Homo sapiens: one gene and its partner. The protein of the gene in region 1 interacts with the protein of each later gene in a biochemical or structural test. Each region holds a gene or a part of one and is shown on either strand. Other genes may lie near its edges.

Region 1 (7,169 bases):
GTGTTATGACATTATGTTTAGCTTTCCATTCAATTTAAAAGATATTTTGGCCGGGCACGGTGGCTCACGCCTGTAATCCCAGCACTTTGGGAGGCTGAGGCGGGTGGATCACAAGGTCAGGAGATCGAGACCATCCTGTGAATGGTGAAACCCCGTCTCTACTAAAAATTCAAAAAATTAGCCGGGTGTGGTGGCGGGCACCTGTAGTCCCAGCTACTCGGGAGGCTGAGGCGGGAGAATGGCGTGAACCCAGGAGGCGGAGCTTGCAGTGAGCCGAGCTGAGACTGTGCCACTACACCCCAGCCTGGGCGACAGAGCGAGACTCTGTTTCAAAAAAAAAAAAAAGATATTTTATTTACTTTTTGAATAGGTAATGCATGTATATGGTATCAAATACAAAAGTAAGTTTTTCTCCTGTTTTATAGTGTTTCCCTCAATTTCCCTTCTCCAGATGCAGCGTCTGTTCCATTTCTTCCTTTAGGTGCTAAAGAAAATTATTCAAAACTTTGAATATAGCAAGAAGATGACTGCATGTGCTTCCAGTTATACTGAGGAATTATATAACAGGCTCACCCGAGATTCATTAATTCTCTAGGGCAGTGATTCTCAGAGTGTAGTATGTGGCCCTGGGGGGCCTCCAAGGTAAAAATAACAATACTATGATGTTATTTGCTTTTTTACCATGTTGACATTTGCAATGATGGTGCAAAAGCAATGGCAGGTAAAACTGCAAGTGTCTCAGCAGGAATCAAGGCAGGCCATTGTCCTAGCTTCCTGCTGTCACAAAGTACCATAGACTGGGTGGCTTAAACAACACATGTTTATTCTCTCACAGTCTTGGAGGCCAGAAATCCAAGACCAAGGTGTTGGTATCTGGTGAGAATTCTCTTCCTAGCTTGAAGCAATCTCACTGTGTCCTCACATGGCCTTTCTTCTGCATGTGTGCAGAGTGAGATCTCTAGTGTCTCCTTCTCCTCTTATGAGGATACCAGTTCCATTGGGTTAAGGTCCCACCCTTATAACCTCATTTAACCTTTAAGTATCTTTTAAAGGCCCTTCTAACCACCAATGTGACTCCAAATATAGTCCCATTGAGGACTGGGGCTTCAACATATGAATCTGGTGGGGGGCAGGCACATTCAGTCCATAACGGCACCAAACTCGACTAGTATGCACTGCCTTACACTTACAGGTTAAAAATGTTCAGTTTCACTTAAGAATGCTCCTGATAGCATTTAATTATTAATTTTATTAAAAGTTGTTTTATTAAAAGTTCTCCACTTGAGAACAAGTCTTTTTAATAGTGCATGATTAAAAGAGAAGTACACATAAGACATGTCTGCCTCATACTGAAGCAAAATGGTTGCACTGATGCAAAGCACTTGTGTGATTGAGTTGCCAATTGAACAAGTCACAGAGCATCATTTTTACTTGAATGACAGAATGAAGTGAGCCTGTCTCTTCAAGGAAAATAATTGATTGTATCTACTTCCAATAATAAAGTTCAAGTTTTTAAGCTAAAATTAGAATTCAAAAAACCCATATCCCGCTTCCATGAGCTTGAGTGCTTGTCAATAAAGACAGACTTCTCTGATGAGTTTAGTGGTAATTCTAACAAATGTTATTTTTTGATATTATATAATGAAATGATATTAGAAACCAAGATCTGGGGGCAAGATATGCTCGTTGCATAAAACGAGTGAACATTTGGAAGAGCTGCATAACACAGTGGACCAACATTTTCAAATGACTAATTAATACATGATGGTATAAAATCATGCATTTATTAACGATCCATTCAAAGTGAAAGACCAATCGATATTAATGTAACAGAGTATGAAAAGTCTATAGATACAGTTTTAGATTCCATATGGCAAGTAACCTTTAAGAAACTACCAGTTACAGGGCTGGGTGCAGTGGCTCACACCTATAATTCCAGCACTTTGGGAGGCTGAGAGGGGAGGATCGCTTGAGCCCATGAGTTTCAGACCAGCCTGAACAATGTAGGCCCAACCTCGTCTCTATAAAAATAATTTAAAAATTAGCCAGGCACAGTGGCATGTGCTTGTAGTTCCAGCTACTCAGAAGGCTGAGGCAGGAGGATTGCTTGAGTTCAAGAGTTCAAGGCTACAGTTAGTTATGATCACATCGTTACATTCCAGCCTGGGTGACAGAGGGAGACCCTGCCTCTTAAAAATAAAAAAAATAGAAACTATCGCTTGTAGAAGAATTTTGATGTCATTTTAAAGACAAATAGCCACATTTATTTGAAAAGACAAAATATTCCTCTCATTTGCAACTGTCTGTGTGAGGTTGCATGTTTTCATATACTTCAATGAAAACAACATAATGCAAATTATGTTGCAGTGAATGCAGATGTGAGAATCTTGTGGTCTTCTTTTTTTTTGTGGAGACGGAGTCTAGCTCTGTCGCCCAGGCTGGAATGCAGTGGTGTGATCTCGGCTCACTGCAACCTCTGCCTCCCGGGTTCAAGCGATTCTCCTGCCTCAGCCTCCAGAGGAGCTGGGATTACAGGCACCTGCCATCACGCCTAGCTAATTTTCGTATTTTTAGTAGAGACAGGGTTTCACTGTGTTGGCCAGGCTGGTCTCGAACTCCTGATCCTCCCGCCTCGGCCTCCCAAAGTGCTGGGATTACAAGCATGAGCTACTGTGCCGGCCAAATCTTGCTGTCTTCTAGTAGGCTCATTAAAGAGATTTGCAAAAATGTAAAACTATGTTACTCCTCTCACTGAACTTTTATTGCTTTGAAGAACATTATTTTTTGCATAAAAGTATGTTAACATGTAATGTGTTTTATGGTCATTTAAAAATGATTAAATAAATATTTAAACATTTTATGTTTTAATTTCTAATGTGGTAAATATTGATAAGCATAACCCATATCAACAAATGTTCTTTGGAATGTTCAACAAATTTTAAGAGGATTAATGGTCCCTAAATCAAGAGTTTCAGAACCACTGTTCTAGGGCAATTTACCTGAGTTGGATTTTATTTACAATTCATTAAAGCTTATACACTATGAAGACATGTTAACTTGCATGTTTTAATCTAGAAGAGGTGCAAATCATTTCTATACACTAGAAATGATAATCTATGGTTTTATCATCTTGTAGAACACCAGCCAGCTTTGTATCCAACCTAATCTTACTCTAATGCTTTGTCAAAATGTTTAATCTCCACTTCCTCAAAATGCTTTTGAACCAGCTTTACCATATCATTGTTAATTTGCTGAAGAAATCTTGGATATGTGTTCATGATATATTTGTATGAGTGTCATGCTTTTTACTTTTTTAAGATTATACTTTGACAGACACTAACAACATATGTATATATGACGTATATATGTATATACATACTATACACACACATACACGTACATATTTCACAACGATGGCATACGGATTCTCTATTCTGAATCTAGCTCTTTCCACTTAATATACGTTGAATGCACTCTTTATTTTCTTCGTCATCTTGACTTTCTTCTGATGCAACGCCCTGAGTTTAACTCACAGATCTGTTAATAAGAAACCCATACATCCCACATATACGCATTTTCCCGTCTCTGGCTCACTAACAAAAAGCTTACCCTAGCCCCATCTTTAACCATAGGTTCCAAATACCCAGGCTGGAATTCAACACAGAAATAAGAAAGGATCCACAGACAACGTGACAAAAATCCGAGCAGTCACGTGACACTGCACGCCCCATAATTTTTTTCCGCCCGCTTCAAACATGGCGGTCAAGCCCTCGCAGCGCAGCAGAAGCCACGGGCTTCCTTCCGCGTAGGAACCTCCTTGCTGCCCTTGTCGGGCTCTTTTGTCTAAGACCACCTCAAGGCAAAGCCCGTGGGGCAGCTGGGTCTGGGGAAAACAGCCCGGGGCCGCGGGGGCCGAACGAGCACGGACCGGAAGTTCCGCAGCCGCGCCGTCCGGCGGAGCCGTTGGCTGCGGACGCCGGAAGTGGCCAGTCGGCAGGTCTGAGGCGGCGCTGTGTGTGTGAAGCGTACCTAGGGCGGGAGGCGACATGGAGACAGGGGCGGCCGAGCTGTATGACCAGGCCCTTTTGGGCATCCTGCAGCACGTGGGCAACGTCCAGGATTTCCTGCGCGTTCTCTTTGGCTTCCTCTACCGCAAGACAGACTTCTATCGCTTGCTGCGCCACCCATCGGACCGCATGGGCTTCCCGCCCGGGGCCGCGCAGGCCTTGGTGCTGCAGGTGAGGCGGGCGGGCCTGCGGTCTGGGGAGCCGCCGCCCCCGGCCTGCCCTGACTCCTGGCGCCCGCTCCTCCAAGCTCTCCCAGCCTGTTTCCTCCTTTTCCTGGTGTCCTGGGGTTGAGCTTGTGAGAATGGCTTCAGTAATTTGAAGCGCGGATTGGATGTCAGCTTATTCCGCTGAGGTGTTCGCTCCGGACGTCCTGAGGTTTCAGAAGTAGTAAGCCGACTGTTAAGAGCCCTACTCAGCACCCGCCAGCGCGTACCCCTCACGGTGCTGGGGGCCGCTAGTCAGGGAGCGAAATCCATGCAGGCCAGACAGAAGGAAGGACATTTACAGCAACAGAAACGTGCATGCCCCAGAACTACCAAAGACTTGAGCTGGCGGGGATGACGGAGGCATTGTGTTGATCAATGGGTGTGGTCGCTTGTTTGAAATGTGACTTCCCAGGTCAAAGACTGTCAATGTAGTGCTTATTAAAATTTCTATTTGAGCTTAATTCCGTACCCTCCAGGTTAAGTTTATTGTATGTTGGAAACGCTGTCAATACTCATTCAGTGAAGTTGACTGGGCACTTTTGAATGTAGTGGTAAGCAACCTTTTGCTGAATGTAGTTTACACTCTTAGTTGCCGCAGGTGAGGGTGATACGGGTGTTTAAGTAATGGTTTCTCTCTCCTTGTGACACAGTTAAAGAGAGAAAACCCAGAAAGTAATAGAAAACTTTTTAAGGGCAATTATTTGATGGAGCCCATTGTAAAGAAAGGAAATAGAAATGATGGTTGAGAAGTGAAGTTTTTATAAGAGAGGTGGGACTTCTGATGAGATTAAAAGAAACTATTCAGCCAAGTATTAAGCCTATTTGTAGAAACCCAAGAAGATAGAAATGCTGATGATACCTCCCTCAGTTCTCTAGATGTTACAGTTTATAAAATGCTTCAGATGTTTCCTCCTGAAGTCTTAATGCATGCTGCAGGTTGGTAAGATGTTACTTTCCTCAGCAGAAGCCAAAGCTTTGAATGTCTTGGTAGCTACCAGGGTAATAGGGCCAAACGAGGAATGGGGTTCCATTAGGATTCAATTTCAGAACTTAAGGCTATTCCTCGTCCTTGTCAGTGGCATAAGTGCCATCTTAGTGATGAGAGAGCTGTTGGAGGTGGCCTTTAGCAGGATCTTATGGCAGGTTAATGAAGTCTTGCCATTTGATCTTCAGTGTCTCTGTGAAACAGATAAGTTTCAAGTTTACGTACCAATTCAGCAAGGTTAAGTGATTTGACCAAGAACACACAGCCAGTTCACCGTAGAGCTGAAACTAAAAATTTCATTTTGTGGATTCCAAATCTTCCTGTTCTGTTGTTTAACCATTCCATAGTAGGATGAGAACACTTTTGTCTAGATTGATTGTAGTTTGCAGAAAGATGTGGAGGAGAAAGGAGTATATACTGAGTAATATGTATAGTATCAGATGTTTTATATTCTGGGGTCGTTATCTTATTTAACCCTTAATATAACCTGAGAGGTTGGTCTTTGTTTCACAGATGAACTGACAGAGCACTCATTAACCTGGTAACTCATTTACCTGGTAACACCTCTTACAAGACACTTCCATAGGTTAGGATTTGGTGACCAGTCTAATGAAGTAGTGGAGATGGGGAGCAGGGATGGAGGAAGGGGAGGGATGGGTCAAAGATGATCCAAGGTTTCAACTTGGGTGACTGGAATAGTGATAATGCGTTAACTGAACTGTCACCTGGGTTTAGGGGAAAAAGTTCAGTTTTAGACAGGTTGAACTTGAAGTTGCAGGTAGGAGTCCCTGCCCATAGGCTATTGGAATTACTGGACTAGATCTTTTGGGAGCTAGAGCAACTGGAGTGGTCCGAGGGAGAGAGAAGAGCCAAAGGTGAAGAACAGGCCTTGGGGAATAATCTTGGTGGAGAGCAATAAGTTTCACAGAAACCAAGGGGACAACAGTCTCCAGCAGATGCTTAAGAGAGGTGTCATGTTTTCTGGAAGTGGTTCTCAACCATCAGCATCGCTTAAGGAACTTTTTTCTTTCTTTTTTTTTTTTTTTTTTTCCTGGAGATGGAGTCTCACTCTGTCGCCCAGGCTGGAGTGCAGTGGCATGATCTCAGCTCACTGCAACCTCCGCCTCCTGGGTTCAAGCAATTCTCCTGCCTCAGCCTCTCGAGTAGCTGGGACTGCAGGTGTGCGCCACCACGCCCGGCTGATTTTTGTATTTTTAGTAGAGATGGGGTTTCATCATGTTGGCGAGACTGGTCTCAAACTCCTGACCTTGTGTTCTGCCTGCCTCGGCCTCCTAAAGTGCTAGGATTACAGGTGTGAGCCACTGCGCCTGGCCAAGGAACTTTTAAAAGCACATATTCCTGGATATTTTGGTTGGGTAGATCAGGGTGAATCCTGGGAACCTGTTCTTTTTTTTATTTTTTTATTTTTTATTTTTGAGATGGAGTCTCATTCTGTTGTCCAGGCTGGAGTGCAGTGGCGCAATCTTGGCTCACTGCACCTCCTCCTCCCAGGTTCAAGTGATTCTCCTGCCTCAGCCTCCCGAGTAGCTGGGTTTACAGGCATGTACCACCATGCCTAGAGAATTTTTGTATTTTTAGTAGTAGAAATGGGGTTTCACCGTGTTGGCCAGGCTGGTCTTGAACTCCTGACCTCAGGTGATCACCCGCCTCAGCCTCCCAAAGTGCTGGGATTACAGACATGAGCTACTGCACCTGGCTGGAACCTGTTCTTTTATCCACAAAAGCTCATTTGACAGGAGGTTTGTAAAGGTGATTTCAGTATTGACAAGGGTTTTATTGTGGGGTGGGACAACACTGAATGAGACTGAGTGACTTGGTACCAGCATAACATTATTTCTTCGTGGTAGTAGGTGATCTCCTGACCTCCCCACTCCTACTCATCTGCCTCTT
Region 2 (5,751 bases), on another chromosome or scaffold:
ACTCTGATGGGTAATTTTTCTCCCCTATTAGTTTGTTTCTCAAACAAAATCTTCCTCAACCTTTCCCACTGGCAGGTGTATACTATCAGATACTAGAAACTCAGAAAATTGTATTTGATTTGAGTAAACATCCTCACTATCATCTGGACTTGAATCTGGAATTTAAGAGAGTGAATACAGTCAAGTATAATAAATGCACTAAAGTATAATGGACCAAAGCCTGCGTAAGGTGGGCTAATACCTGCCTCACAGGATTGGTTCAAGGATTAGGCACAAATACGGAGCATTTATGCCATGCCTGGAACATCGTGTTCAGTAAATGGATATGGCGAGACTGTGTATTGTTAGATTTGAGCCCTGCTGTGCCTTAGTCCCAGCTACTCAGGAGGCTGAGGCTGGAGGATTGCTTGAGCCCAGGAGTTCTGGGTTACAGTGTGCTGTGCTGATGGGATGTTTGCACTAAGTGCAGCATCAATATGGTGACCTCCTGGGAACAGGAGACTCCCAGGTTGCCTAAGGAGGGGTGACCTGGCCCAGGTCAGAAACAGAGCAGGTCAAAACTCCCTTGCTGATCAGTAGTGGGATCGCACCTTTGAACAGCCACTGCACTCCAGCCTGGGCAACATAGTGAGACCCTGCCTTTGAAAAAAGAAGAAAAAGGATTTGAGCCCCATTTGGGATGGGCCAAAGAGGAACAGGCGTTTTTATTGAGATGTTAATACAGGATTTGATCATTGAGTCTCAACTTCCCTAACTGAATTGGCAAACTAGATACCTTCTTGGGTTATGGTATATTAGAGAAACACGAAAACTACTGGCATTTGGACTTTCTTAGAATTTTGTGGCTCATTAAAAATTGTATCTGGCTCAGTGTGATGGAGGGTTGGGACCGGGCAGGGTCTTGCTCTGTCACCCAGGCTGGAGTGCAGTGGTGCAGTCATGGCTCGCTGCAGCCTCGACTTCCCAGCTCAAACAGTTCTGCATCAGTCTCCCGAGTAGCTGGGACTACAGGCACACACTACCATGCCCGGCTAATTTTTTTTTTAATTTTGTATTTTGTAGAGAGGGGGTCTCACTATGTTTGTTGTCCAGGCTTACGTGTGAGTTTTAAATAAACCATTTCTTTTTCTTTCAGATTTCCACAAGACGGCACCCTATGTCGTCACTGGCAGCGTAGATCAAACAGTAAAAGTGTGGGAGTGCCGTTGATTGTGTCTCCTTCGGCCCCTCCTCCCTCTTTTCCTCTGGATGCACTCTGATGATACCATGGTTACCCCATTGAGCTCTGTTTAAATAAATATTGTCCTTTCATGTAAATTATTCTGGATGTAGATTGAGCTTATTAAATGTTACACACAAAGTATTCATGCATGGTGAATCCAAATTGTATACTGTAAATTTACATACGTTGTCTAGAAGTACCATAGGGTTTAAAAACCTGGGCTGGCATTGGTCACACCAGGCCTAAGAAGGCAGAAGTTGAATCAATTGAACTAGGGCACTAAACTGAATAGTTGACAGTGTCATTTTATGTTGGATTATTAATTCCTGTTTTTCTTTCTGCTATCTGTTGGTGCCTGACTTGATGGCCTCATTTGGGGAAAAGTGGTGGTTATTAGGGCTTTTTCTGAAATGTGTATCTATGTAACATCACTTAAGTGTGCTTAATAAATCTTCTGTAAGGATTTTAGATGATAAGGCTACAATTCAGAATCTTCTGAACCATCTATGTAATGAATGGGGATTATACATTGGAATTTTTGTCATGACACATTTGCCAAATCAGTAGGATATATTTGTTTTGGCAGCCTATCACGCAGAGGCTAGTGGTATATTTATGTAAGAAAATGACTGTAAATCTCAAGAAAAATCTCAGCAGCTAATAGCAACTCATTTATTTCATTTTGGTCTTAATGCTTTGTAAACAGGTCAAAAAATACTGTCATACTCTAAGCTTCTATTTTCCACACTGGACATACTTCTAGTTGTATTCTCCATACTATTAGACTGTGTAGTGATGTGACTTCCAAGTAGAATTTAATCTCCCCATTGAGTGTGTCATGGTACAAATCACTATTCGTTTTTGGTGTTTTTTAGGGATGTGCAATGTGCATTACATAATGACAGAAATACTGAGAAGGTTCTGTGTGCCCATTTGAAAGGAGTGGGAGGAATACAGCAGTTTGTTTTTCAACATGAATCTGATATTGATTTAAACTGTGTTTCACTTACAAGTTTTAAAAAAATGACAGGGTTTAATGGAGCGTGCATAAAAATGTACTGTTTTCACCTTTTGTTTATATGTAAATGTTTGTAAGTATATGGGCCTATCTGTAAGTGGATAAGTCTGTATGTGTGTATCATACACATCAACCTCCATGTCCTTAGTCCTGGGTTTTTGAAAAAGTGCTAAAACGGACAAGTAGAATAAATGTTGCTGTGGAATGCCATGCTTTAGAACAAACCCTTTTTGATCTTAATGCTTCTGAAAACTAGGTCTGACTCTGGGGATTTTTTTCCAGCCGAAGGAAAATCACTTCCGTTATGTCCCCCTCTAATTTAGCCGCTCGACATTTTACACAACCCGGATATGTTGTATATTTTGACCCAAAGTTACAGGTAGGTTTAAGAGAATTTTTAGCCATGACTTTTGGAGCACTATTCCATTGTCAGTTATTAATAAAGAATTCCATTGCTTAGCTAACCAACAGGTTTTTTTTGTTTCCAAGAGAGTTATTTGAAAAGTTAACAGAACAATGAGATAACAGTGACAGTTTAACAAAGATAAAATTCTGAACTGCGTTTTATTCATTTGTGTACTATGTGATTTTTTAAATGTCCCCTTTAGTATTTAATGGAAAATTGGTTCCTGCAAAAGACAAAGGGTGAGAGTTAGCGTCCTGTAGATACACACAGAGACTAGGCCGTATATTAACTAGAAGCAGCTTTATGTCTAGCTTGTGTCTTTTTGTTTGTTTGCTTGTTTGTTTTTAGATTCCTGAGAGATGTCTCTGGAAGGGAAAGTTTTGAGAACTAATGGCTATTTTTGAGGACAAAAATTACATCTTAAGCTAATTCCTTAAATACATACAGTAGGTGAATTTTCAGGACAATATTGCCTCACAACCCTGCTTACATTGAAAAGTCTTTTTCCCTTAGCTCTTCTGACTGGATTTTTCTACAAAAACTATGGAAAATATCTTTGTTCTTGTTTGCTGCTATTTTCTGTCCTATTTTGAGAAATATAAATACATAGAAATGGTGCATCTTAACATTTGTTTGTACATGTATAAATGTCTTGTATTTTAATTCATTTTTAGCATGAATTGTTTAAGGGTAAGCCACAACATCTAGAAATCACTCATAGATATTGAACAATAAAGGAGAATGGTACCGATGCAGGAGGAAGCAAGCGTGTCTTCCCCTGCAGCACACAGCGACTTGCGTTGACAAAGGAGGAGGAAACGATTACTCTGTAAACAAAGTTATCCTTACTTGGGAGATTGCCACAGCCTGCTGCTGAGTTGAGTTACCAGACATCCTCCATGTGAGAAGCAGCGAACATTGAATCTCAGGGATGGCCCACAACTGGGTCCACATGTAATGAGCCCTGTTTAATAACGAAGGGGTGGGGGAGAGCAGTCCGTCTACAACCTGGAATCAGATTTGCAAAATTTCCTGCACTGCTGTCTGACACTGTCCTGTTGATGCCCTTTCTGACTGTGTTCTCTGTTTTCTCTGTCTGCTGTCTAACCCTGTGCCTTGCCTGGGATAAGGACAATGATGAGGTTACTGGTTTGGATTGTAAGTAGAGGACTTTTATTAATTGGTTTAGAGGTTCACTGCTGCTTTGTCACTTTCTCAATCAAATTGGCCACTTAAGAAATAAAGAGCTGGTAGAATTGCATCCTCAGATGATTATTGACTGTGTGTGTGTGTGAAAACAGACATTCCAGTGCCACCCAAATATATATCTGTAACGTGCCCAAGAAATCCTAGCTGCGCTCTTGAGAGTGCATGCCATGGAGACTGGTTTAGACACCGCGTGGAGCCTAGTTGCCTGTTGTCACGGCATCTTGCACTTTAGGAGACTAAGACCGTCCTGGTTCGTCTGTGTGTGGTGTGACCAATGGTGTGCCCAGAGCACTACTCTCAAAATCACTAGTGTTAGCAAGTCGTCCCGGGCTGGGGAGCGTTCGCCGTAGTCTTTGGAAGCTTTGGCTTTAGATTTACCAAGCCCCGCCTCCCCGCTGCCAGTGCCCTGCTCTCCCGTTCGCCTCTTTCTGTTTCTGTGTGAACTTTCCCGGTAATATCACTCGTTAAATAGGTTTTCTTTAAACTTAATTAAAGAAAAACTATTTAAAGGTAAAGGATATTTTGTTGACATCGGTGGCTCGATCATCCTTAAGCAACTGAAGTTAAAATTGTTGAAGGAAAAGGCACTTAAATTGGTTACTTTCATGTCCAGCTGTATATAAGTCCAGTGTGTTCATCTAGATGACGCAAAGAATCTCCTGGTAGAGAAGCGACATGTAAAAAACTGGTGGAAAAAGGTTTTGGATTTTTTTTCCAGTGGGGTGGGGGGAGGGCAAGCTGGATTTACAGGTCACGGCTGGACTGAATGGGCCTTTTTATCTTCCCACTGTATCATGGAAGTAGCTGCTTGCTTGTACTGTCCATCCTTCAGGCATCCCTAAAGCTCACTCTGAAGATGTTAGAGACAAACACAAACTCTTCGAGTTAAAGTTGATCCTGACACTGACATGAAGGCAAGCCTTGATTTCGTATGAACGTTGCTGAAGTGGTAATTGAGGAAAACAGTTCCCCAGATTGTTAAGAGTTCACTGAAGATATTGACACAATTTTAAAAAATCAGTAAAGGAATGTATATAATATTGCTCTCGTGTTTTACAGTAAGATTTGTTGCTCTCAGACTGTGTAAAACAAAATTTATTCATGTTTTCTGCATATTAAAAAATCTTATTGTACCAACTGGTAAACTATTAAATGCCTATAAAACTAGATGTGATTTTTTTTTTTTTTTTTTTTTTTTTTTTTGTCTTCCTTTGCACAGGGGAAATGCTGATAGAAAGTGGGGCTGTGTGTAGCTCCAGTCACAAAGAGTGACACGAATCGGTGTCAGGGCAGTAAGGCCTCATGAGCTGCTTTCCTTCAGGGCAGCACCCGAACTGGCTTTGCTGTCCCCCTTCCCCCGGGTGGAGGAGGGAGTGCCTCAGCCTGAGCCTTGCCATGGCATGCGTCTGCGGCACAGGCCCGCTCTCCCCAACCCTCCCAGCAGCCCGTTCTGACTGTGGCTATCGCTGTGGCCAGAGAGCCAAAGCCAGGATGGCTGGTTACAGGCCCAAGACTAGACTCTTGGGGACAGAGTCTAGAGATAAGGGGCCCTGCCGGGCGCGGTGGCTCACGCCTGTAATCCCAGCTCTTGGGGAGGCAGAGACGGGAGGATAGCTTGAGCCCAGGAGTTCGGGACCTCCCTGGGCAATATAGCGAGACCCCGTTCTCCACAAAAAGGAAAAAAAAAAGATGGGGCCCTACCCCCTTTGTTCTGTTAGCCTCTAATCTTGCTCAGTGGTCTTGGAATCATAAAAGTAAATCCTTAATACTGTTTTCGATTTTGGTTGAAACATACAAAATAAGAGTGTTCATCTTTGTCCCAGAAACCCCAGCTCTGCACTTTACACATGGCTGTATCTGTGGTGTATTCAAGGTGCCCTACAAAGGACAGTTTGG

The links.
Region 2: the proteins of NUDCD3 (region 1) and PAFAH1B1 form a complex in vitro, tested with the Homo sapiens proteins (one study listed by BioGRID).

Annotation. Positions count from the first base shown.
Region 1 is NC_000007.14:44,487,478-44,494,646, reverse strand, and holds the start of NUDCD3 (nudC domain-containing protein 3), read left to right. Parts: upstream 1-3,988; 5' UTR 3,989-4,046; coding exon 4,047-4,238; intron 4,239-7,169.
Region 2 is NC_000017.11:2,680,594-2,686,344, forward strand, and holds the end of PAFAH1B1 (platelet-activating factor acetylhydrolase IB subunit beta), read left to right. Parts: intron 1-362; exon of another isoform or gene 363-641; intron 642-1,135; coding exon 1,136-1,209; 3' UTR 1,210-5,022; downstream 5,023-5,751. UniProt on the Homo sapiens protein: Regulatory subunit (beta subunit) of the cytosolic type I platelet-activating factor (PAF) acetylhydrolase (PAF-AH (I)), an enzyme that catalyzes the hydrolyze of the acetyl group at the sn-2 position of PAF and its analogs and participates in PAF inactivation.